Regions from separate parts of the Homo sapiens genome. Here region 2 is linked to region 1. The links come from fine-mapping of genetic effects on gene expression. A gene starts in region 1. The other region holds a variant in brackets. All regions are shown on one strand. Distances are from middle to middle.

Region 1 (12,042 bases):
GTGGAGTCAGAGACCAGAAGTTTTTGAGCAGAAAAAAGAACATGAAGAAACCAGCCAGTCAGCTCCTTTCTAGCCCCTACAGCATCTGGAACCTCGGAGCCGGCAGCAGGTCAGCAGTGACAAGCCCAGCCATGAGGCCGGTGACCTCCAGCTCCCAGGAGCTGCCGGCTGCCCCAGTTCCGGACCCAGGCAGCAGCCTGCCCCCACCCCCAGCATCTCCCTGGAGGGAGCCAGATAGATGGTTTAATAATGCAGGCTGCCGGGCTGACCTCGTAGCCGCTGAGCCAGCTGAGGCTAACTCCGCTCCCCCTGCTGTGGCTCCCGCAGAATTCCAGAGCTCCCTGCAAGGGTGCTCAGATCCAAATGGCAGCCACACAATAGTGCGGGGTGCAGTGGCCTCTGGCTAGGGGACAGAATAAGTCAGGCAGATGCAGAGATCTGAGCCTTCCTTCCTCCTCCTCCAGCTCTCCCTGGGGGTGTCTCAGAGGAGTCTCCTGGTTCAGAGAGCTGAGAGGAGGCCATCTGCCATGGGGCTGTAAACACTCGGCAGATCCCGCTTCTGTTGGAGCAGGCCTCGGGGTTGGGGGGAGGGGGATGGACACTCTCGGTCTGGCCCTTGCACCATTGGGTGGGGCAGCTCACCAGGACCCTCCCCAAGCACCTGCTTGTGACTGGCAAGGGGCTGGGCACCCATGGCACAGATCTGGATTAGATGGTTGAATTGGCTGAAAATGGCTCACCTTCTAGTGGAGGCAGCCGGTGTGTCAAAAGGGGTGTCCCCCATTGTCCTCCTGTCCCCTCCCTATCTGACAGCACACTCCAGGGCTGCTCTACCAAGACTGGCGGGGAGGCAGCCTGGCAAACCTCACCATCCAGTCATCTCAGCCCCAGCCAGGCAAGCAGGGTGCCATCAGCACCTCTAATAGGGTTCTCTGGGGTCCCTCCCATAGCTGGGTCTCTGGACCTACAGGCATCCACGTGGACACTTCAAAATATCCCCCAGAGTGTGGCCCTGGCCTTTGGTCCTCACAGGCACCCCCTCACTGGGGCCACACCTTCGGCCACCTTTGACTCTTGTCCAGCCCTAGGGTCTTTATGCACATTCTTTATGCATCATTAGCCTTGAGCTGCCCTTGGTCTATAAACAATGAAGACCATAGGCTCTCAGAATCATGGACTCCTAAGGAATCAGGCCATCCTGTGTTGGCTGCCACTCCTCTAGTTCTGTTTTCGTCTTTGATAGTCTGGATGCAGAACACAGAACTTCCTCAACTTCCCCAAATATAATTGATTGATCTCAAAACCACTGGCCCCCAAGAGGGCTCCTGATGGTACCTCCCTCCTGGGCTCCACCCCCTGTGTGGTCCCCTCACTACAATGAATGGGTCAGATCCATGGAACCAACGGGAAAGCAAAAATGAGTGTTACTTCTGAGGACAGGTCTTAAGAGACACAGGCTTCCTACTTGTTCTCACTCTGGAGAAAGCAGCCGCAATGTTGTGAGGACACTCAAACAGTCCTATGGAGAGGTCCATGTGACAAGACACAGAGGACTCCCACCAACAGCCAACACCACCCTGCCAGCCACGTGAGGGAAGCATCTCAGAAGCAGATCCGCCAGCCCCAGTCCAACCTTCAGATGGGTGGAGCCCCAGCTAAACATCTTGACTGCAAGTTTATGAGACATTTCAAGGCTGAATCACCCTCTCCCAAATGCCTGACCACAGAAACTGTGAAATAATAAGCATGTCATTTTGCAGATTTAAGCCACTGAGTTTTGAGGTAATTCATTACAAAGCAATAAATGACTCATAGGAGAAACACGCAGACTTTTCTGAAGGGAGTGGGGGGAAGGAGGTGGTAGGGAGACTGAAGTGGGGGAGGGGGCTCGTAATGTACACACCACAGCAAAAGAATGTCAAAATCCTTCCTAGAAATACATGTGTTCTTCGCAACTAGGCCTCCTGGGCGGGTCGGCTTCCCTCCCTGTCACCTTCCTCCCGACTTGTGGTCTCTTCTCTCTCCTACTCATTCTCCCCCAGGCCCCAGCATCTGACAACTACCTTCATCCTTGCATGCCCTGACCTGTCACAGTGACCAGAAAAACAAAACACTCCTAGATAAGAGGACCCACCTTCCCCAGAAGGCAGCTCAGCCCCCATCTCTTCCTAGTCCACTTGGCAGGGTTCCACCGTGGGCAAGGACCACGCTTTGCCTTCCAGGCCCGTCTTTTTCTTCCAGGCTCTGTCTCACCACTGGCTCCTGTCCTCAGCGAGCTGATGTCCTCAGTTCCAGTACTGGAGGCGCAACAGAAATGTGATTTTAGGTCTGGATCCAAAGGAGGAATGTGACACCCCGCACAAGCTCTGGGGTGTGTGTGTGTGTGTGTGTGTGTGTGTGTGTTTCTCTGAAAGAATCACTTTAACCTAATTTTCTTAGCATCAACTCAAAATGCCACTGAGACCAAGTGAAGAAAATTTCACCTAAGTACAAAGGGTAAATCTTGTTATTCACCTTAAACAATGCGTGAAGCTTTTAGCATTTCTATGTTCCTCTCACTCTTCCTCCTCTGTTCTCTAAGCTTTGAAGAAAGGACGACTTTCTGGAAAAAATGTCTTTCTAGTGACGTGGCCAGGGCAGTGGGATCATTTGGATGTGGGCCATGCTTGTTCACCTTGAAAATAAAGGGCACTTTCTGGTGAGCTGTCAGCCAGGGGCAGCTCCTGTGCACCTCTGGGAGAAGGCCGAGCAGATGGGGTTCTGGGATGCAGGGCAGGTGCCCAGCCCACCCATGTCACCTGGCACTGACATTTCGAGGATGGTTCTGCTCCGGTTAATTTTCCTGTGCACGCGTCACTCCACCCACAGCGCAATTAGCCCAGCTGAGGGCAGGAAGTGGTACCTGGATTCACATTCCTCCAAGACTGTCCATGGTGGTGGGGAGAGGAGAAATTAGGGCGCTGGTGGGAAGGGGGGGTGGATGCTGTGTGCCCGGAAGAGAACCTCCTAACGTCTAGATTGGTGGCTTATTAATAAGAATAATGTGTGAAAATGGCCTTGCACAGTGCCTGGCCCTGAGCGAGCCCCTGACACATGGTTGCTACTTGATAGAGGTGACCAAGTGAAGAATAAGCTGGGGGAGGTGGACACATAGAGAATGAATAATGACATGATGTGATGTGTGCTGTCACTGAAGCCTTGCAGAGTGTTCTGGGAGCCGGTGGAGAAGGAAGTAGCTCAGCCAGCTCAGTTTAGGAGTGGTCAGGGGAGGCTTCACTGAGGAGGCGGCTTTCAAGCAGTACCTGAGGATAGGTAGAAAGTAGACAGGTAGGGAAGGGATCTGAGAGGAGGAAAGTCCTCCCACATCAAGGGAACAGGATCAAAAGCACAAAGGTGTGAAGATGATGGGGTGACAGATCCAACTCCATCTTCTATATGGTGGCAGAAAGTGAGTCTGGAAAGGGCAGATATTGGTGTTGCTGGGACCCAGAACATATGTGGGATGATATTGAAGATGCTGGAGGAATAAATAAGGACCAACTGCAACGGGCCTTATTTAGGCAAGTTAAAGAGTTTGGAGTTTTGGTCAGGTGCGGTGGCTCATGCCTGTAATCCCAGCACTTTGGGAGGCTGAAGCAGGAAGATCACCTGAGCTCAGGAGTTTGAGGCCAGTCTGGCCAAAATGGGGAAACCCCGTCTCTACTAAAAATACAAAAATTAGTCAGGCATGGTGGTGGGTGCCTGTAATCCCAGCTACTTGGGAGGCTGAGGCAGGACAATAGTTTGAACCTGGGAGGCGGAGGTTGCAGTGAGCGGAGGTTGCACCACTGTGAGTGGAGATTGCACCACTGCACTCCAGCCTGGGTGACAGAGAGAGGCACTGTCTCTAAAATAAATAAATAAATAGTGTTTGGATTTTATCCTGTAGCAGAGAGGGCTTACCATTCATCTCTGTATTTATTCCTGAGGCAGACATCACCAATTGATCATGCCATTTTCTGCAAAGGGTGAGCACCTCTAGGCAGCTGCTGCCAATCACTTGTCATGAGAAAGAGAACATATTTGCCTCTGTGCATGGGCTCTGGGGAGCTACTGGAGGGTTTAAACAGATGGGTGGTGAGGGAGTTTGTTGCAGGTATCCAGGTGACGGCAAGCCTGGTCTGGGGCAGTGACTGTGGGAATGGACATGTTATTGCTTACGTTTGTCTCGGTCTTAACCATTCAGCTACGGATTCTAGGCAGTCTCCTGAGCTCCCCGCTCCCCGCATTCCCAGGTCCTCAGGGTTCCCTGTGTGTGTGTCTGTGTGTTTGTGTGTGTGCATTAGGTCTGCCTGGGCTTGATTTTAATAAGGAGCTTGCTATATGTCTGGAGCTGCACTATCTCACATGGCAGCCACAAGCCACATTATGGCTATTTAAATTTAAAGTAATAACAATTAAAATTAAAAATTTAGTTCCTCAGCCACATTAGCCACAATTCCAATCACTCAATAGCCACATGCAGTTAGTGGCTACTGTCTTTGACAGTGCAGACATGTATCCTTTCCACTATGGTCTAGAGAAAGCCCAGTCGAGTGTCTAGATGGTGTGGTCCACTATGACCCTCAGGCCAGGCCAACTCTATCTTCTATATGGTGGCAGAAAGTCAGCTAAGAGCTGAAACTCTTGTCAATGTACATCTGCCCAGTAAGGGCAAAGTCTCCAAAGGGAGATTCTTAGACCGTTTTAGAGCTTCAAACAAATTCTGACCAAATCCAGCCAGACCTGGAGGTCTCCAGGGAGAAGGGAGTGGCCGGCACTGTGCTGGGGGTACTGGCTGCTTTTGCTATATTTCTTTCACAAAGGAGGAAACAGGCTCAGAGAGGGTTGTGACTTGCACTCTGGAAGATGACTGGGAATGTCTCGGAAACAGAGCAGCAAGAGGCTGTTTTGCCACTGACTCCCTGGTATTCTTTGGGGTCATCACTGCTCAGTTTCTTGGGCAGGAGCGGATTAGGTGGCATCTGCCAGTGCCCATCTCAGAAAGTGTCTGGGCCTGAGAGCCACAGGGGGGCTGTTGGCTTGGGGAGCACTCTAATTTCTCGAGGGATCCGCCAGAGGGCGCAGAGGCCGTTATGTTCCGCCTGAGGGGCTCTTCCAGCAAGGTCTTGGAGCTGGGACCCTGCTTCTTGCCCAGCCTTGTCAGGGATACACACCATGTGTTGGATACCGCCCCTGCCCTGTAGGAGGGCTCAGTTTAGAGGGCAGAGACAGCACATGGCTTGTTTGGGTTTGCAGCGAGGGACCTTGAAGGATGGGTAGGAGTGTGCCAGGCAGCCTGGGGTGCAGGTGGGGAACGCCCAATAGTCCTTCTGCATACCCCAGGACAACAAGTGGCCTGTGACCCAGTGCTTGTCTGCCCTCCCAGCCCCATCCTGGGCCGTTCCCTGTTCTTAGTTGAAAGGAGGGAGGAATTTCTGGACAGACGTTCTTTCTGCTCTACTAATACCCAACTCCGTGGAGTTCCCTGTACACACATACAAAGCTGTTTCATGCCTCTGTGCCTCTTTGCACATGCTGTTCCCAGAGTCCAGGACACCCTTCTCCTCCTTCTTTAGCTGGCCAACTCCTACTCATCCATCAAGATTCAGCTCAGGCAGTGGCTTCTTCTGGGGAGTCTCCTTATTCCAGACCTGCATGAGATGTCCCGACGGGGAGTTCCCGCAGCCTGGACTTCATCTGCTGTGCAACACCTGAGAACAGGCGCTGGTGCATGCGGTCCTATAAAAGTGATGGAGAAGTACAGGGCCTGCTGGCAGCAGGCCTCCGACATGCAGCTCGCAGGGCCTCGGGAGGAGGTGCTTGCATGCCCAAGCACCAAGTTATAGGCCCCGGGTGCCAGGCTTCTTGCATCTTCCACCTCCTCCTCCTCCTCCCAGCATCCACCCCTTTGCAGGTGGCAGCAGGTGGCAGGGGCTTTGGCGTAAGGGGCGGGGAACTGGGCCTCTGGAAGGCTAATGAAGGTTCTCTAGCTACAGATGAGCCCAGTATCCCTTGGACCTACTCCTGGAGGGGTGGGGAAAGGCAGTGAGTGCCCTGGCACAAGGTAGGGGAGCGTAAAGTCTAATACTGTCTGTAGGCTCCCTGTGTAACCTTGGGGGAATCACTCCTCTCCGAACCTCAGTTGTCTGGCCTGTAAAATGGGAACGCAGCAGCCGCACTTCCCCAGTCGCCAGCGGTTGAACGCGGGACCAACCAGCAGGGCGCAGGCGGCAGGGCATGGAGGTACAAGGCGGAGAGGGGGCCCATCAGCGGAGGCGGAGTCCAGGGGGAGGGCGAGTCCAGGCGCACTTCGGGCGGCCCCGCCGCAAGTTTGCCCCCAGCTGTTGAATGCGCTGGCGGAGGCCGGACCCGGACCCGGACCCGGATCCCGCGGGGTGAGCAGCGCAGGGGGCCGCGGCCGGGACAGGGGTCCGCCAGGCCGGGGCTCGGGTCCGTGGGGCCGCCTTCGCCTCCCCGGGCGCTGCAGCTGCAGCGGCGGCGCCAGGCGCGGCCCCAGCCCCGCGGGCGTGTGTCTGCGAGCGCGCGTGTGTCCGTGGAGCGTGCGGCCGGCTCGGGGGCGGGAGCGGGCTTGCTGCGGAAAGGCCTGCGGAGGGCACCGGGAGCGGGCGGGCTGGCGGACGGACAGACGGGGACGGACAGACGGACACAGCCTGCCGCGGTCCCTGACGCGCGCCGCTTGGCCCCTCCCGGGCGCCCTCCCCGCCGAGGCAGGGGCAGAGGCGCGGCGGCGGGGAGGAGGGGGCGGCGGCGTCTGCGCGCACACGCGCGCTCCCAGACACACACACAGACACACGCGGGCCACCCCACGGCCACGCACCCCGCACCCACACCCGCGCTCACACTCACATTCACACTCACACTCACACGCGCAGGCCCCGCGGCCGCCGCTTCCCGGAGGCGGTGCTTGGCCCGGATCCCGGCTGGGGCTGGGGTAAGTGAATTCCTCTGGATCCGAGCGCCGCGACCGACCGACCGGGGAGACGGTGGGAGTCGGGGCTGGAGCCGGAGGGCACCCCCTCCGTCAGTGGGGGTGGGGCTTGGAGAGGGACACGGAAGGGGGGATGAGACGGGGAGAGCCACCCCCAGTGTCTCCTGGGTCTGGGGATCCCCGTGAGACCCCCGGGGGACCACCCTGCGCGAGGGAGGTGGTGGTGGTGGCGGTGGGCGGAGGCGGTGGGAGGACACCGAGGACGGTCGGTGAGGTGAGCGTTTCTGGGGGTGGTGCAGAGGCTCGATGGTGGACGGTGTGCCAGCCGGTGCCACACTGCACCTCTCTGCCCTCATCTTTTCGAATCGGGGGCCCTAACCCCTCTCTTTCACGGGGTGCTGCCGGGTCAAGGCATTCATCCTCTAGCTGGTAAGAGGGGTTGACGGGGTGGATGCCTTCTAGGGGAAGGGGGGCCAGGGTGGGGCTTGACGGCGGTGGGGTTGGTAAGACCAGAATTGGGGGGTGGGGACCCTTTCAGAGGCGCTGGCCAGGGACAAGGAGGGAGGCAGCCCAGGGAGGCGGCATAAATCGCAGACACTGCAGCTCTGGCAGGGCCGGGGCCACTGCCGGGTGTGTGTGTGTGTGTGTGTTTGTGTGTGTGTGCGAGCGCGTGCCAGTGTGTGTGTGTGCGTGCGTGTGTGGGCTCCAGCAGCTGTCAGGGGACGGGGAGGGGGTGGGTGTGTTGGCTGGTGGGGCGCCGTGTGCATGTGGAGAGGATTGTGCGTGCTGTGTGTGTGTGGTGTGTGCGTGTGTGTGTGGACATGGGGTGGACCCTGCTCTCTGTCTGTATACACACAAGCGCACACACGCACACTGTCAGTGGCCTGGCAGGATTTCCTCGGAATGTTTGGAGGGAAGGGAGCTGATGTGTGTGTGTGTGTGTGCGCGCGCGCGCGTGTGCATGCACACTCGGGGAGCTTGTGTCCAAAACAGAGGCCACAGGCCATGGTGTGTCAGGCGTGCCCAAGGAGGGAGACGAGAAGGGGACAGTGGTGCTGACCGTGCACTCAGCTGGGGAGGAACGTGGTACTCGGCACTTTCTGCAGCTCAGGGCTCTGTGCTGTGCCCCTTCCCCCTGGACTCCTCCCACCCAGCAGCTGCGGCTGGAGGGCACTGCCTTGGTCCCTTGCTGAGACGCAGGTGTTGGGCTGGAGTGTGTGTGTGTGTCTGGGCTGCGGCTGTCGCTATCAGCAGGCCAGGCTGTCGGAGTCAGAAAGCTGGAGGGAGTGGGGTGCTGGCAGCACCTGGAGGAATGTGGTGGAAGCTGTGGGGCGCGGACTGCCCGGCGCGGTTACCGAGAGGCGTTTTAATATGCAAGTTGCATCATGAGATGGGACTGGGAGTGTGTGTGTGTGTGTGTGTGTGTGTGTATGTGTATGTGCATGGCTGACACCCCTGTTCTCGTGGCCCGTGGACACCTGTGGGACGTGTCACGTCTGGGCCATCAGCAAAGCATGTGGGCATGTGTGTCCCCTGAGAGGGGTGCACAGGCAGGTGCTGTCCTGATGAGCCGGGGGCCCTGCAACTGTGTGGGTGGGGAGGTGGGTACCTCTGGGCCATCAACGCCTAGGCAGGAAGAAAGAGTGTTAATTGTGGGGACATCAGGAAAAAGTATGTATGTGAGGTCAGTGAGAACCTCAGGTGTGACATAAGCTCCAGGCCGCAGGTGACGTCACTGGGACAGTTTTGTCGGAGGTTGCTCCCCCCAGCCAGAGTGTGTAAATGTGATGTCACGGGAGTGTGTGTGGCCGAGTGTGGTTATGTCTCTTGTATATGAGGGGTGGGAAGGGGAGAGGGATGGAGCCTTAGGACGCGTGGCGTGGTCCCTCCCAAGAGGCCGCCTTTCCCAGCATCCTGAGTGGGCATGGGACCCCTTTCCTTAAGTCCTGCCCCCTGAAGAGTGCACCTTCCAGGACTGGAACCCCCGAAGGAGGTTCTCACATCAGCACCATTGGCTGCTGAACTCCTTTGCCAGGTGGGCCTGGAGGCCTCCAATGTGCTGCAGCCCCCTATCTGACCTCCCCAGTCCCTGTTTTCCTCTTCATCCCAGCCAGGCCCACCACCCCTGGGTGGATGTGCTTTAATGAGTGAGTGTGTCAGTGCATGTGACAATAGAAAATGGCCATAGCCAGGGAGCGTGAGGCCATTGGTTCGAATCCCATTTTGCTGCTTTCTGTGTTTTGTGATTTAAGCATTCGCGTCGCCTCTCTGAGCCTCAGTCTCTCCTCTGTAACATGGGGTGAGGGGTTAGAGAGGTGAAGGGGGTTAAGGAGACCATGGGCCTTGTGGGGGGCGGGTGCTGATGCCTGGCATATGGTGGGGGCTCAGTCCACGTGAGCTCTGTCCTCTCACCTCCTATCCCCCTAGCCCAGAGTAGCTGCTTTCCTGTTTTGGTTTAAGTCTAACTTTGCAAAGGACTTTCTTTTCTTTCCTTGGATTTCCACGGCAGTTCTTTGAGGTGGGTGAGTTAGCCACTATTATGTGGATATTTGACAGATGAGTAAACTGAGTTCTGGAATAAGCTGTCTGTTGATTTAATGTGAATTCCATCCCCCCCCCCGCCGCCCTCAGTGGCTACAGGGAGACACATTTGATTACCCAGCCCCTTCTCGAGGGGTACCTTCCTTTCCTGGAGAGATATGGAGCTATGAGGAATTGGTGGTGGGGTGCCAGGTGATGAGCCCAAGGCCAAGAGTCTCTGGCTGGAGGAGAGGCTGCTCTTGACTCCCAGGTCAGTGCTCTCTTGCTCTTCCACCCACAAGCTCCAGAAACAGTCAGCGTGATAGGAACGGGCACACTCAGCAAGCCTTCTCCAGTGGGGCGTGTCTAGGGCGGTCACTGGGGGCTCCATGCCTGTTCCTCAATATCCCCTGAGGTCTTGTAGGATGCTTGTTTTTGGCAGCAGAATTGGGTTCCAGTGACACCCCTGCCGCATCTGCATCCTGGCTGTGTGTGACAGAGGTCAGCCTCTCCTGTCTCTGTAAGAGGGTGGTGGCAGCTTCCCTTGCGGGTGTGATGTGTGAGTGTGAAAGGGTGACAACCGTGTGCAGGGCTGGGAGGCACACATTGCTGCTACCCTCACCTGCTCCGGCCACAGTGCCTGGGGGCCAAGCTCCTCTCTCGGTGCCCCCACCTGCCCCATGTTGTGACATGTGCTGTGTGGAGTGGATGGCCGAGAAGTAGGATTGCCTCGAAACCTGACGCTTCTTAGCAAGTTAGACCTCTTCAGGAGCTGTGTTAATCGTCTAGAAGGTTTACCCAGTCCTCTGCCTCCTGCCGTCCCAGCCCAATCCCTGATTAAATTAACCTTCTCTTGGCTCAATTACCACCTGGGGCAGAGGCATTGACATTATTACTGGAGATGGTGTCTGGGGGTTGGAATAATTGAGCCCCCTCTCCTTCCCCCTAGCTCTGCCGACAGTCCCCAGGAAAGCCCCAGAGAAGCCCTGAGGACTCAAGAGCCACCTGGGCAGGCTTGCTTATGCCTGGGGTGCCAGAGGAAGGGTGCTGGCTGCACGATGCTGCTGATTGAAATAGTAATAACTATAGTGATAATAATAATAATGATATCAGCTAATATTATTGAGCCCCTACTGAGAGCCAGGCCCGGTTCGAAGCTCTTTATGGGCGGCATTCGTTTAGTCCCACAAAAGCCAGCTGCAGCAGGCACTATTATTATTCCTCATTTTGAAGACAAGAAACAGAGAGGTTACAGACCAGTCCAGGGCCACACAGCGATGGAACCAGGACTGGAACCCTCGAAGGGAAACTCTCACATCAGCACCATTGGCTGCTGAACTCCTTTGCCAGATGGGCCTGGAGGCCTCTACATCTTGGCCTACCCCTCTCACTGAAGGCCCTTTCTGGGCCTTGCTTTGCTTATCTGTAAATGGGTGCAGTGACCCTGCCCTAGGGAAGCTGGGGGTGGCGGACGCCCTTTGCTTTGGCTGCAAGGAGAGACAGGAAAGGAGGGGCCTCGTGGGTGGTGCCTGCATCTCAACCCCCCATCCCATTCCCCACAGAGATGGGACACCCCCAAAGGCAGCCCTTTGCTCCCTGGCCCTCCCACAGTGCCTCGAACAGCAGCGCTTGGAGGGCTCCCCCGGGTGACAGTGGGGAGGTTGCCCCAGGATCAGTATCTTCTTCAGGTCCCGAGTCTATCGTGGCCTCAGCTGTGGCCCCCTGGACTCCCCACCTGGCCATCTTGCTTGTGGAAAGGGCAGGGGCAGGGCTCCAAATCCAACCTCTTTTCCTCCTCGGTGTGGGTCCTGGGCAAGTCACTTCCCCCCCCCCCCCCGAGGCCCAGTTTCCTCAATATGAAGTGGGGACAAAAGTACCGAATTCTTGGTTGGGCGTGGTGGCTCACACCTGTAATCCTAGCACTTTGGGAGGCCGAGGCAGAAGGATCACCTGAGGTCAGGAGTTCGAGACCAGCCTGGCCAACATGGTGAAACCCTGTCTCTACTAAAAATACAAAAAATTATTCGGGCATCGTGGTGCATGCCTGTAATCCCAGCTACTCAGGAGGTTGAGGCAGGAGAATCGCTTGAACCCAGGAGGCCCAGGTTGCAGTGAGCCGAGATTGTGCTACTGCACTCCAGCCTGGGTGACAGAGTGAGGCTCCGTCTCAAAAAAAACTTCCCCAGTAGCTGGGATTACAGGCACACACCACCACACCCGGCTAATTTTTGTATTTTTAGTAGAGACGAGGTTTCACTATGTTGGTTAGGCTGGTCTCGAACTCCTGACCTCGTGATCCTCCCTCCTTAGCCTCCCAAAGTGCTGGGATTGCAGGCGTGAGCCACTGTGCCTGGCCAGAACAACAACAGCAACAATAAAACAACCAAAAAACAAAAAAAACGAATTCTTAACCCTTCTGGGTTGTCTTAAAGGTCATGCTAAAGGTTAGGTAAGAGAAGACCACGTGTATAACATCCTGTCTGGCATGCGAGATGCCATTATTTTCCTCCCCCTTCCCATCTGCCCCCTCCGTTCATTCCTGGCTTCCTGGA
Region 2 (12,042 bases), 100 kb after region 1:
ACAATTGACCCCTGCTGGGCTGGACTTGAGGTTCACGGCCACATGGTTCCCTGTGCAGCGCCCCGTGGGTCCCAGCAGACACAGCACCATAATGGGAGACTTCTAGGCCGAGAGGGCAAAAGCTTCAAACAGCAGGCGGCAGCACCAGCTGTGTGGTGGCTGGGAGCTGGTCTAGCCTCCGCCTTCCTTCCAGAAGTCTCCCCAGCATCCTCAACCAGGTCAGATCCCCCAGCATGACTCAACATCCCTTCGACTTCCCTTCTGCAGCCCTGTAAGTGCTGGGGGTGCTGTATGTGGTGGTGGGCACCTGGCATGCCAAGTTCATAGCAGGTGCTCTGTCAGTGCAGAGCTGGGCACTAGTGGCCCAGGGTGACAGGCTTTGGCTGGCTGGAGCAGGGCTGGGTCAGGGTCGGGAGAGGCTGGGCTGCAGCAGAGACAGCTCAGGTCTGAGTCAGACAGACCTGGGTTCAAATCCTACCCATCCCTCCCAGTGTTGGGGTAGGGGGCAAGTTGCTGCCCTTCTCTAAATCTTATTTGTAATTTGCTTTCCTGGGCTGGTTATTAAGAATAGTAGAATTTGTCTTCTACCTTCTCCTGGCAGGTGGATGCCTTAGCTCAGCTCCAAGGGACAGTTTTGGGTACTGAGAGGGAACAGGGATGGGGAAGGTGGCCTCCCTTTTACTGAGTCCATACCAGGCCCTGTGTTAAGCTCTTTATGCACTCTGAGTCCTCATCACTCCCTTGTAAGGCAGGAGTAATTCTTTCCATTTTCCAAACAGAGAAACTGAGGCTCAGAGAGGTTTCCTGGCTTGCTTAGTCTCAGCAGCGAGGAGCCAGTTGTTGAACGTGGGGTTGTGTGACTCAGAGCCTGGGCTCTGTCCAATCCCAGCTGGCAGTGGGGGAAGGAGGGGCCTGGGCGGGAGGCTGCAGCTGGGCGTGGGTGGGCAGGTGGGTGCAGAGGCCCATAGATGCTGGCTAATGGGCCCTGGTGGGCCCGGCGCTAATGGGCCCTGGAAGTGCCAGGCGTAGATTTAGTGGGAAGGCAGGTGCTGGCTGCAGTGGGCCAGGAACTCTTCTGCCCCTCCTTTCCCTGTCCCATTCCTCAGGCCAGGGAGGAGGGGGAAGGAGATGGGGGCTCAGGGAGGGGGCATGCACCTAGCTTTGCCACTGACCCTACAGCTGGGTCTCAGCTTTCCCTTCTGCCCAATGGGTGAATCATTCCCTCCCCTCAGGTTTTGTTCTGAGTACCAAGGGCCATACTCTGTAGGAATGAATGCTGTAAAAATCAGGGGGCCACTGAAGTAGTGACCCCCACCCCAAGAAAATGCTCTTTCTTTGGAGACTCTCAGGGCTTTAGGGATAGAAGCAGGTGTGCCCCAATTATGCCAGTTTCCCTTTTCTCCTCCCCGCCCCCAACCCCTGGCAGTCCTAGGTGAGGGACCGCACAGCCAGGCCTGAGTGGGTGGGTAGGTGGCGCTGGCGCAGCCAAGAAGTGCCTGCTTCTGATTGGAAGGCTGGTTTCCATGGCGACCGATTGATTGCCCAAGCTGCAGACTCAAGGGGAATGAGCAATGGGGCCTTTCTCCCAAGCTTCACTGCTCAGGCTTGGGCCTGGAGGCCAAGGCAGGGGTGACATCTTTGTGTCCTGTCAGGGACAAGGGGCCCACTAGGGAACAGAAGGGCACCTCAGCCCAGAAGCCACCACTGGGCACCTGCTGTGTGCACATTCTGAGCTAGCAATGGAACAGGAGGAGGGGACCTAGCATTTATGAAGCAACTACTATGTGAAAACGAAGCTGCTGGGACTAGAACCTGGCCCAGTGGAGTCCCAAGCCTGTGAGCCTAACCACCAGGCTGTGATGCTCGTCCATGCTGCTTGTGAGGACTAAGCACATTTATGGGACACCAGCAAGCATCCTTGGACCACCAGACTGTAACCCCGCTCACACCAAGCTCTGAGGGTGAGGGTGAGACAGTCATTGCTGAGGGAGATCAGGGCTGGGGTGAATGTTGGAGGAATTAGGGAGGAGGATTAAATGTTTGGGGTGAGGGTAGGGAAATAAAGGCACCCCAGGCAGGGCACTGGCTTGGGCAAAGGCAATGAGGTGGAATGAGCTGGCCGTGTGGCAAGAGTTGGCCCCTCCACCTGTGATGTGGACTCGAAAAGGAGGGGCGGCCGTCTCTCTGATTGTTAGCTATGCAGGCCTGTGCCAACCACACCCTACCTCCCCTTTTACCCCTTTCCCATGCCCGTCTTCCCACCTATTCTGTCCATTCTGCCTCCCCCTCACTGGGGCCTGGGTGAGTCCCTGGCCCTCTGGCCACAGAGGTCCCACCGGCCAAAGGAGAAGGCTGGCACCAGTGGGGCTGCCTCCAGGACTCCAGCAGGGGATGGTTTCTCCCCGTCCCCTCCACGGTCTCTTCTCAGATTCCTTCTTTCTTCTTTCTCTCCCTCTTCCTTCTTCCCTGCACGCACCACCCCCTCCAACAATATTCTCACTGTCTCTTTTCCTGCCCTGGGGGTGATTTTGTCCGATTGATTGCCCAAGCAATCTGAATTGCTCTGAATCAGAAATCTGACTGGTCCCTGCCCCAGCCCCATCTCCATCGTGAACCCCATCCCCTGGTCCCACCCTGCCGCTGCCCTGCTCCCTGGCTCCTGCCCTGCCTGGCTCTGTCCCTCTTCATCCCAAACTCTCACTTGGCCCTTGGTACTCAGGACAAGACCTGAGAGGGGGAATGATTCACCCATTGGGCAGAAGGGAAAGCTGACACCCAGCTGTACAGTCAGTGGCAGATCACTGCCCTGCTCCTATCCCTGCTCTGCCCTGCCTGCCTGCCCCGTCCCTGTCTAGCCCCTCCCAAGCCCTGGCTTCATCTGAGCCTCTGCCACAGTCTTAGGTTCCCAGATGGGCTCGCTTAGGTCCTGGCCTCATTGTCATTCTGTCCACGCCAGCATCAGTCGGTGGCTGCAGGCACTGTCGGGGGTGAGGGGGAGAGAGAGAGAGAGAGGGAGAGAGAGAGAGAGAGGGAGAGAGAGAGAGAGAGAGGGAGAGAGAGAGAGAGAGAGAGAGAGAGAGAGAGGGAGAGAGAGAGGGAGAGAGAGAGAGAGAGGAGGAGAGAGAGAGAGAGGGAGAGAGAGAGGGAGAGAGAGAGAGGGAGAGAGAGAGAGGGAGAGAGAGAGAGAGAGAGAGAGGGAGAGAGAGAGAGAGGGAGAGAGAGAGAGAGAGGGGAAGAGAGAGAGGGAGAGAGAGAGAGAGAGGGAGAGAGAGAGAAAGAGGGAGAGAGAGAGAGAGGTTGGGGCTGCAGGTTGCGGGGAGCTGTAGGTCTGCTCTCTGAGCCTCCTCTCAGAAGGACAGAAGTGTTGTGTACAGGCTGGAAATAGCTGTCCATTATTGAGTACCTACTGTGCGCTAGAGAGGTTACAGTATCTCTAACCTCACAGCAGCCCCAGGAGACAAGTAAAAGGGACTCTTCCTCTTTACTCCAAGAGCCGAATTGACATCTCCATAGTAAACATTGGCAGGATTCATTTGGGACCCAGGTCCTCCTGGTCAAAGCCCCTGCTCACTGCCTTCTGCTGTGGGATTTGGGAAATGGGGTAGCTGGTCCCTACTGCAGGTGCCCCTGGATTGCTGAAGCCCTGTAAGATCTCCAAGGATGGCCAGGGCCCCCACAGGCACAAATGTGGGTAGGCTAAGGAGGAGAAACAGGGAGGGGGAACTGCATGAATGGAGGCTTGGAGGCCAGGACTGCTTCGGGAAGACTGTATGGGAGATGCAGCTTGAGACAAGGTTGCGGGGGTGAACCAGAGCCATTTCATATAGGGCTTCAAGACTTGAAGACCAGGCTGGGCCTTGACAGAGAGAACCTGGGAAGCATCTGAAAGTTGTTGAGCCAGGGAGGGAGATGATCCCAGCTATATTAATTCCTTCCTTCCTCCGTTGACTCATTTATTAAAAATTTATTGTCTTCTCCGCGGCATGCCTTTGCTGGGACTGGTGATTCAGAAATACTAGTCATAGGCCGGATGCGGTGGCTCACACCTGTAATCCTAGAACTTTGGGAGGCCGAGGTGGGTGGATCACTTGAGGTCAGGAATTCAAGACCAGCCTGGCCAGTATGGTGAAACCCCATCTCTACTAAAAATACAAAAATTGGCCGCGTGTGGTGGTGGGCGCCTGTAATCCTAGCTACTTGGGAGGCTGAGGCAGAAAAATCGCTTGAGGTGGAGGTTGCAGTGAGCCATGATTGTGCCACTGCACTCCAGCATGGGCAACAGAGAGAGACTCTGTCTTAAAAAAAAAAAAAAAGAAAGAAAAAAGAAAAGAAATACTAGTCACAGTTCTGGCCCTCAAGAGGCTCACAGGCTCACCAGGAGAAACTCATGCATATTCATAAAGGTACCAAAGTCCCACTGGTACCGAGATAGGTTTGTATACTGGGGCAGTGGGAGAAGGGGGAGAGACCTGGAATGGCTTCAAAGGCTTTGGTCCTGAACTAAGTCTTGGGGGTCAAGTAGAGGATGCAAAGCCCATTGGACTGGGAATAAAGAAGGTTCCAGGCAGAGAAAACTGAATGGGCAAACATCTGGAGGCTTGATACAACCTGCTGGGCTCAGGGAAGTGCTAGCAGTTTGGGTGTTTGGTGGAGGGGGGTGGCTCAGCACCTGTGCTGCACTGGGGATCCAGGGAGGAGGCAGGTGACCCTGGCTACAGAGTCGGGGATGAAATGAAGGGGGGAGCAGGGAGACCTGGAAGGAGATGATGGAGGCTAGAGTTGAAGGAATGGAGAAAGACTGCAAAATATCCACCCATCCATCCATCCATCTAGAAAATGTTTGCTGAGGCCGGGTGCGGTGGCTCATACCTGTAATCCCAGCACTTTGGGAGGCCGAGGTGGGCAGATCACCTGAGGTTAGGAGTTCGAGACCAGGCTGACCAACATGGTGAAACCCTATCTTTACTAAAAATACAAAATCAGCCGGGCATGGTGGCGCATGCCTGTAATCCCAGCTACTTGGGAGGCTGAGGTAGGAGAATTGCTTGAATCCAGGAGGCAGAGGTTGCAGTAAGCTGAGATTGCGCCATTGCACCCCAGCCTGGGCAACAAGAGTGAAACTCCGTCTCAAAAAAAGAGAAAGAAAATGTTTGCTAAGAACCAGTGTGGGGCAGGGATTGTGCTGGGTGCTGGAGGTGGAACCGGTCAGGCTGGGTCACTGACGGGAGAGGGTGGCTGGAGGCCAGGTTGATAAGCTTGGAGTGAGGACAAGCAGGATGAATGGGGGCAGGGGATGAATATCTTGAGTTCAAAG[T/C]GCATCCACCCAGGTAGCCGTGATTCGGGATGGGGAGGCAGCAAGCAGCAGGGGCTTGGCAAAAGTCAAAGGCATTTCTTTTTCTTTCTTTCTTTCTTTTTTTTTTTTTTTTAGACGGAGTCTCACTCTGTTACCCAGGCTGGAGTGCAGTGACACAATCTCAGCTCACTGCAACTTCTGCCTCCTGGGTTAAAGCGATTCTCCTGCCTCAGCCTCCCGAGTAGCTGGGATTACAGGCATGCGCCACCACTCCTGGCTAATTTTGTATTTTTAGTAGAGATGGGGTTTCTCCATGTTGCTCAGGCTGGTCTTGGATTCCTGATCTCAGGGGATCCGTCTGCCTCGGCCTCCCAGAGTGCTGGGATTACAGGCGTGAGCCACTGCACCGGGCCGGTCAAAGGCATTTCTAAGATGGGTGCTGCCAACTGTGCTCAGGGCTTTCCCAGCCTTCACTTCATCCTCACTTAATGGCATTCCCATCTGTCCAGGTGAGAAAACCGAGGCGTAGAGGCTTCATCGTTGCCCCATTATTGCAGGGATGGGCAAAGCTTTTCTGGAAAAGGCTACATAGTAAATATTTTTGACTTTACGAGCCATGCTTCTTGGTCAAAACTATTCAACGGTGCCACCGTAGAGGGAAAGCAGCCATAGACAGTACCAGAAATAAGTGGGTGTGGCTGTATTTTAATTAAAAAAGTGGATGAACATGGAAATTCAAATTTCATATAATTTTCACATGTCAGGAATTTTTTTTTTTATCTTCAGAAATAGAAAAAACCTAGCCGGGTGCAGTGGCTCATGTCTGTAATCCCAGCACTTTGGGAGGCCGAGGAGGGTGGATCACCTGAGGTCAGGAGGTTGAGACCAGCCTGGCCAATATGGTGAAACCCCATCTGTACTGAAAATACAAAAAAATTAGCCGGGTGTGGTGGCCCGTGCCTGTAGTCCCAGCTGCTTGGGAGGCTGAGGCAGGAAACTTGTTTGAACCCAGGAGGGAGGGGCTGCAGTGAGCCGAGATCGCACCACTGCACTCCAGCCTGGGCAACAAGAGCGAAAACTCCATCTAAAAAAAAAAAAAAAAAAAAAAAAAAAAAAAGAAAGAAAGAAAAAGAAAAAGAGAAAAAAAAGAAAAAAAAACATGCTTGGTTTCTGGTTGTACCATAACAGTTTGACAGGATTTGGCCTAGGGGCTGTAGTTTGCCCACCCCTTGGGGGATGGTTGGGAGGTGGCAGAGCTGGGGTTCAAACTAGGTTCTGCGAGCCCACGGGCTTCTGGACCAGATCAGCTCCAAGTGTGTGCCGGACCTCAGCCCCCTGGTCTTTCCCTTTCGGGTTGGTTCTCCCATCTTGGGATGCACAGAGCATCCTGCTTCTACGCTGCCCATTTTGGGCAGGAGGCAGTGTGCCGGGCAGGCCAGGGGATCTGAATCCCCCAACTCGGAAAAGGGTCCCCGCCCAGCCACTTGCCAGCTTGGAAGACTGGAAACCTCTCTAGGCCTCAGTTTCCCCACCTGTAAAGTGGGGCATAGCAGATAACTCACCCGCAGGGTCGCCGTGAGGCTGCAGTGAGAATATACCTTGAAACGTCTCCCCACCCCGCGGCTGCCTCAGTTTCCCTCCTCCCCTCCTTGCCTCTGAGCCTGGTCTACACCTGCGCCGCGGCCTCTCCCACCTCCCCCACCGCCGTCCCCCTCCTTAATGCGGAGAACGACATCCTGGGTGTCTCCCAGCTGCCTCCTGCGCACGGACGGTTTCTCGAAAGCTTTTAAAAACGAGGCTCCCTCCCGGCGGCGGCAGGGAGGGTGGGAAGGGGGGCGCCCACCCTCGGGAGCTTCCCCGGTGGGCGGCGGCGGCCGCTCCCAGCCTTTTCGGGAGATCTCTGGCTGATTATTATGGAAATCAGGCCCCAGCAGCGCGCCCGGGTGGCGCGGGAGCGGGAGGCGCTTGGTGCGGCTGAGACGCGCTGAGGACCCGCTCTGCCAGCCAAAGGAGCGGTGCGGGGGAGGGGGCGTGGGAGCTTCCCGCGCTCCTGGGACACGCGTGGCCTGTTCTGGCCCGGGTGCCCGGGTGACACTGTTCCCGCGCAGGGCCGATGGGCTGAGCTGCAGCCGGAGGGGCTGGGGTCGCGCACGGAAACCTGGGCGCCCAAGTCTGGGAGTTCATTTCCGCCGGGACCTGGGCCCTTGATATCAGCGGTGCTGGATATTTTCAGTGCAATTAAAGGCAAAGGCAGTGGGGTTCACGCCACCACCCCAGGAACAGAACTGGGGCGTGTAATGAGCTCAAGCCCTGTGTACTGGGCGCGTGTACTCGGCGTCCAGCACCGACCTCAGGGCGCTGATCTATTTAAATCCTTCCGTTGACTTGGGCATGGTCAGGCCCATTTTATGGATGAGACAACAGAGACCCAGAGAGGCAAAGCTCACACGGCCAAAGCAGTCGAGGAGAGACCTGAGCTGGGAGTTGTCCAACTCCTCTGGCCAGTTCTTACACCTTCGGTCATCCTGTCTCCAACCTGAGGATGATGCCTTTGACCTTCCAGCCGCGCATCCAGCTCTGGCCTGCCCTGTGCCTCTCTGCGGGGGGACTCTGCAAATGGGGAGAGAGACAGCGTGGCTAATGTCGAGGAGAGCTGAGGGTGGTGGGTTGTCCTGGTGCTGAGGGGCTCTTGGTTTCTGACTATGCCTTCTATCACCACCACAGGGTTTGAGTTGAGCCAGGATCCCCCACCCCCACCACCCCTCAAGGTGCAGGAAATCTCATCATTCAAAATCCATTTCCTTTATATTGTCACATTCTGGAGAAGGGCTCCAATCTAAGCTTAAAAGTGATAGAGAAAATAAAAATGGGAAAGTCAGATGGATTCGGCCACTTTGTAAGCCAGAAAAATGGCCCCAGCAGACAGGTGAGCAACAGCTTTGGAAAAATCTCTAGCAATCAAGAACGGCCATGGGGGTTTATCTTTGCTCTGTAATGATCCCAGGCAGACGGAGAGGAAAGGCAGAGAAACCTGCAGGTGAATGGGCAAAGGGCAGGAGCGATGATTCACACTAGAAAGGAAACACAAATGCTTAACCCTCACAGGGAGAAAGTCCATTCCCACTCAGATATGAAAGGAATACAAATGTTAATCAATGCAGTTCCATTCAAACTCACAAATATTTTAAAACATAAAGTTATTTAATTTACCGCTGAATAACTGTAACTATTTTTAACTGAACTCATGGTTACCCTGGTAGTCCATCCTCCCAACTGCTCCAATTCACAGATAGGAACCTAGGCTAAGAGAGGCTAATTGCATAATTTGCTCCAGGTTAGACCTCTGGTGAGTAGCTGAGCAGGGTCACCTGTTCGGTGGCAAAGTGGTGGCATCTGGCCGGGCGCGGTGGCTCATGCCTGTAATCCCAGCACTTTGGGAGGCTGAGGCAGGTGGATGACCTGAGGTCGGGAGTTCAAGACCAGCCTGACCTATATGGAGAAACCCGGTCTCTACTAAAAATACAAACTTAGCCAGGTGTGGTGGCACACGCCTGTAATCCCAGCTATTCAGGAGGCTGAGGCAGGAGAATCGCTTGAACCCGGGAGCTGGAGTTTGCAGTGAGCCGAGATTGCACCACTGCACTCCAGTCTGGGCAACAGAGCGAGACTCCATCAAAACAAACAAACAAACAAACAACAAAAAAACCCACAAACAAACCACACACACAAAAACGCAAAGGTTAGGCTTCATCCCAGCCCCCGTGGATCAGAAACTCTGGCGCTAGGGACCAGCAATCTGTTTTAAGGAGCTCTCCAGGTGAGCTGGAGGCTACAATTAGAGAATGACTGCTCTGGGCTCCAGGAGAAGGTAAGGAAAGCAGGTACGTGCTTTCGCTGCAGAAGGCAAATTGTATTGTTTCAACCTTTTTGAATTACCTATGGATAACAGGTATTGTGAGCCTGTAAACGGCCACCAATGGCACCTCTGAGAAGCCACTGAGAAGTAGACATGGTTTTATCCATGGAGGTATTTAAGACAATGTATTTATAAACATGGAATACTGGAAACAGTCTGAGTCTCCAGCAATAGGGGACTGGGGAGAGAAACCTTGGTTCATCTAAAAGATGGCTGCTGTGCAGTTTTGAAAAGTGAGTGTGTAAAGACCGCACAACGTGGTACAATAGGAGCAGACAAGTCCTCCTGGGTTGCCCAGGACTTTCCCAATTTTAGCACAAGAAGGCCGGCATTTTGGAAAACTCCTTGGTCCTGAGAAAATGGGGACAATTGGTCACCCTAGCTATAATCGGCACTAGTGCCACACCCCAAGTATTACTGTCCTCCCATGTTGCATGGCCGGTGGTAGGATGGTATTTCATCTGGCCTTGCAGTGAGGTAGCTATGTGACATGTTTTGGCCAATGCAATGTGAGCGGAAGTGGCATGTCACATCCAGACAGCGCTCCTGGCAATTCATGCCAGGATGGCACCTCCTCAGCCTAGGTCCCTGAGTGACTATGATAAGCAGAGACTCCATGCCGATCCCTACCCTGCAATCCCAGGGCATAGGGTGTGAGCAAGACATAACCTCTTGTGGTGTGTGAAGCCACTGAGATTTGGGGATATTTGTTGCCACAGTGTAACCTAACCTGTCCTGGCTGGTATACACGTGGACATCCGGATTTCATAGTTTTAAGGCTTAAGTGTTAGGCCGGGCATGGTGCCTCACACCTGCAATCTCAGTACTTTGGGAAGGCCGAGGCGTGCAGATCACTTGAGGTCAGGAGTTCGAGACCAGCCTGGGCAACATGGTGAAACCCCGCCTCTACTAAAAATACAAAAATTAGCCGGGTGTGGTGGTGCATGCCTGTAATCCCAGCTACTCGGGAGGCTGAGGCAGGAGAATCGCTTGAACCTGGGAGGAGGAGGTTGCAGTGAGCTGAGATTGTGCCACTGCACTCTAGCCTCAGGGACAGAGCGAGAATCTGTCTCCAGAAAAAAAAAAAAAATTGGCTTAAGGTTACAAAACTGCATTTGCAGTATCATTGCAGAGACATAACAGGTGTGTTGGAAATATTCTGAAATGTTTACAAAATTATCAGGTAGAGGAATTCTTGGTCTAGGTTTTTTTTTAACTTTTAGGATTGGGATACATGTGCAGGTTTGTTATATAGATAAACTGCCATGTGAGTTTGGTATACGGATAATTTTGTCACCCAGGTAATAAGCATAATACCCACCAGGTATTTTTTTCTAATCCTCTCCGTCCTCCCACTGTCCACCCTCCAGAAGGCCCCAGTGTCTGTTGTCCCTCTCCTAGTATTCATGTGTCCTCATTATTTAGCTTCCACTTATACGTGAGAACATGCGGTATTTGGTTTTCTGCTCCTGTCTATGTTCGTTTGCTTAGGATAATGGCCTCCAGCTCTAGCCGTGTTGCAACAGAGGACATGATCTCATTTGTTTTTTGGTCTAAGTTTTTCTTCCTCTTCATTGCGCTTTCCAATTTTCTGCAATGAGCATGTTTTATTAATTTTTAAATGGGGGACATTTTCTGAAAAAATCATTTCTTTGGATCAAAGGTTGGTCCCCTCTGGGCTCTTATTTATGAACTGAAAATCCCTTGGGGGAGGGAGAAAGAGAAGAGTTAAGCTTTAGCCTCAAAGGATCACAGGGACTGGAAAGGTCACAGAATTAATCCTGCCCTTCTGCTGGAGCCTTCTAGCTGGTGGCTCCTCCTGGCCTTAGCAATTGGATCAGATGCCTGTTCCTGGTCGTGTGACTCTGGGCAAGTCACAAGCTCTCTGAGCCTCCACGTCCTCATCTGTTAAATGGGAATAATCCTGTTTACCTTGTGGGCTCCTGGGAGGATCAGATGAGATGAAGTATGTTCTACAAATGCCGGCGCCTTCTGCCTCGGTCTTCTTCATGGAGCCTCCGTGCTGGGTGACTTAGGGCGTGTGCCTGAATGTCTGTGACCTTTGATTTCATCATGGAAGAACAGGCAGGGTGCTTTTTTAGGCCAGGGCATTTCTGGATGGGGCTGGAGGCCCCCGTACAGAAGCTGAGAGGGATGGAAAAGGAGAGGGCTTGTAGGCCTTGGTGTTCAGCAGCCGAACAAAAACTTTGAGCCTGGCAACCCCAGACCACGAAGCCAGCCCACCAAAAGCCAAATGGTGAAACCTCTGGAGTCTTAAAGTAGCCCCGGGGACAGGGGTGGTCAGGGAGGGCTTCCTGCAGGAGGAGAGCTGGCAGGATGGCATGGACAGCCCCCATTGCCTTCCATGGTTCTGTCCTGTTCAGAGTCCTTGAACTCAGCCCTCTCGAGGGAGACTCCATCAAGAATATAACAGTGACAGCTAATATCTGCTGACGGCGTGCAGTAGACCAGGTTTACCCAATCCAGTGTCAGTCCACACGGTGCCACTTTGGGGTAGGACTTGGGGAGACTCACCGTGGAGAAAAGTTCGCTGGGTGAATTGGTGGCTGAACCCCATCTGCTCCGGAGGAAACAGCTGTCCTTTCCTTCTCCAGGATAAAGCAGCCACGGGGCACAACTCTTCCAGTCCACAGGGCCACCCAGAATGACCCCAGTTCCTTGCTGCACCTTGTGGATATGTCTGATCTCTACCGTGACCCTATGTCTTGGGGTGCCTGGAGCAGTCCTGGTTTCTGCCTGTTGTCCTGGCGTCCCCTGGAATCCAGATTCCAGCACTCATAGGAAGGGCTATTATGGATGATGAGTTTGTGGT

Direction of the effects. Positions count from the first base shown, and alleles are read on the strand shown. Sizes are in standard deviations (SD) of each study's normalised expression.
With allele T in place of C in region 2, the expression in liver of the gene that starts at base 6,792 in region 1 is higher (moderate effect, 0.47 SD a copy in GTEx).

The links. PIP is the estimated chance that this variant, and not a neighbour inherited with it, causes the effect.
Region 2: its variant is fine-mapped to the expression of ELFN2 in liver (GTEx, PIP 0.94).

The regions. Positions count from the first base shown.
Region 1 is chr22:37,422,229-37,434,270 of GRCh38, reverse strand. ELFN2 (extracellular leucine rich repeat and fibronectin type III domain containing 2) reads left to right here and starts at 6,792. Exons shown (of 3, transcript NM_052906.5): 1 at 6,792-6,973.
Region 2 is chr22:37,320,122-37,332,163 of GRCh38, reverse strand. It overlaps LOC105373024 (a long non-coding RNA gene), which reads left to right and starts at 28. Exons shown (of 4, transcript XR_938232.3): 1 at 28-271. RefSeq lists a silencer at 1,362-1,656 and enhancers at 2,555-3,200, 3,648-4,847. The variant T/C (reference allele first, on the strand shown) is at 5,315.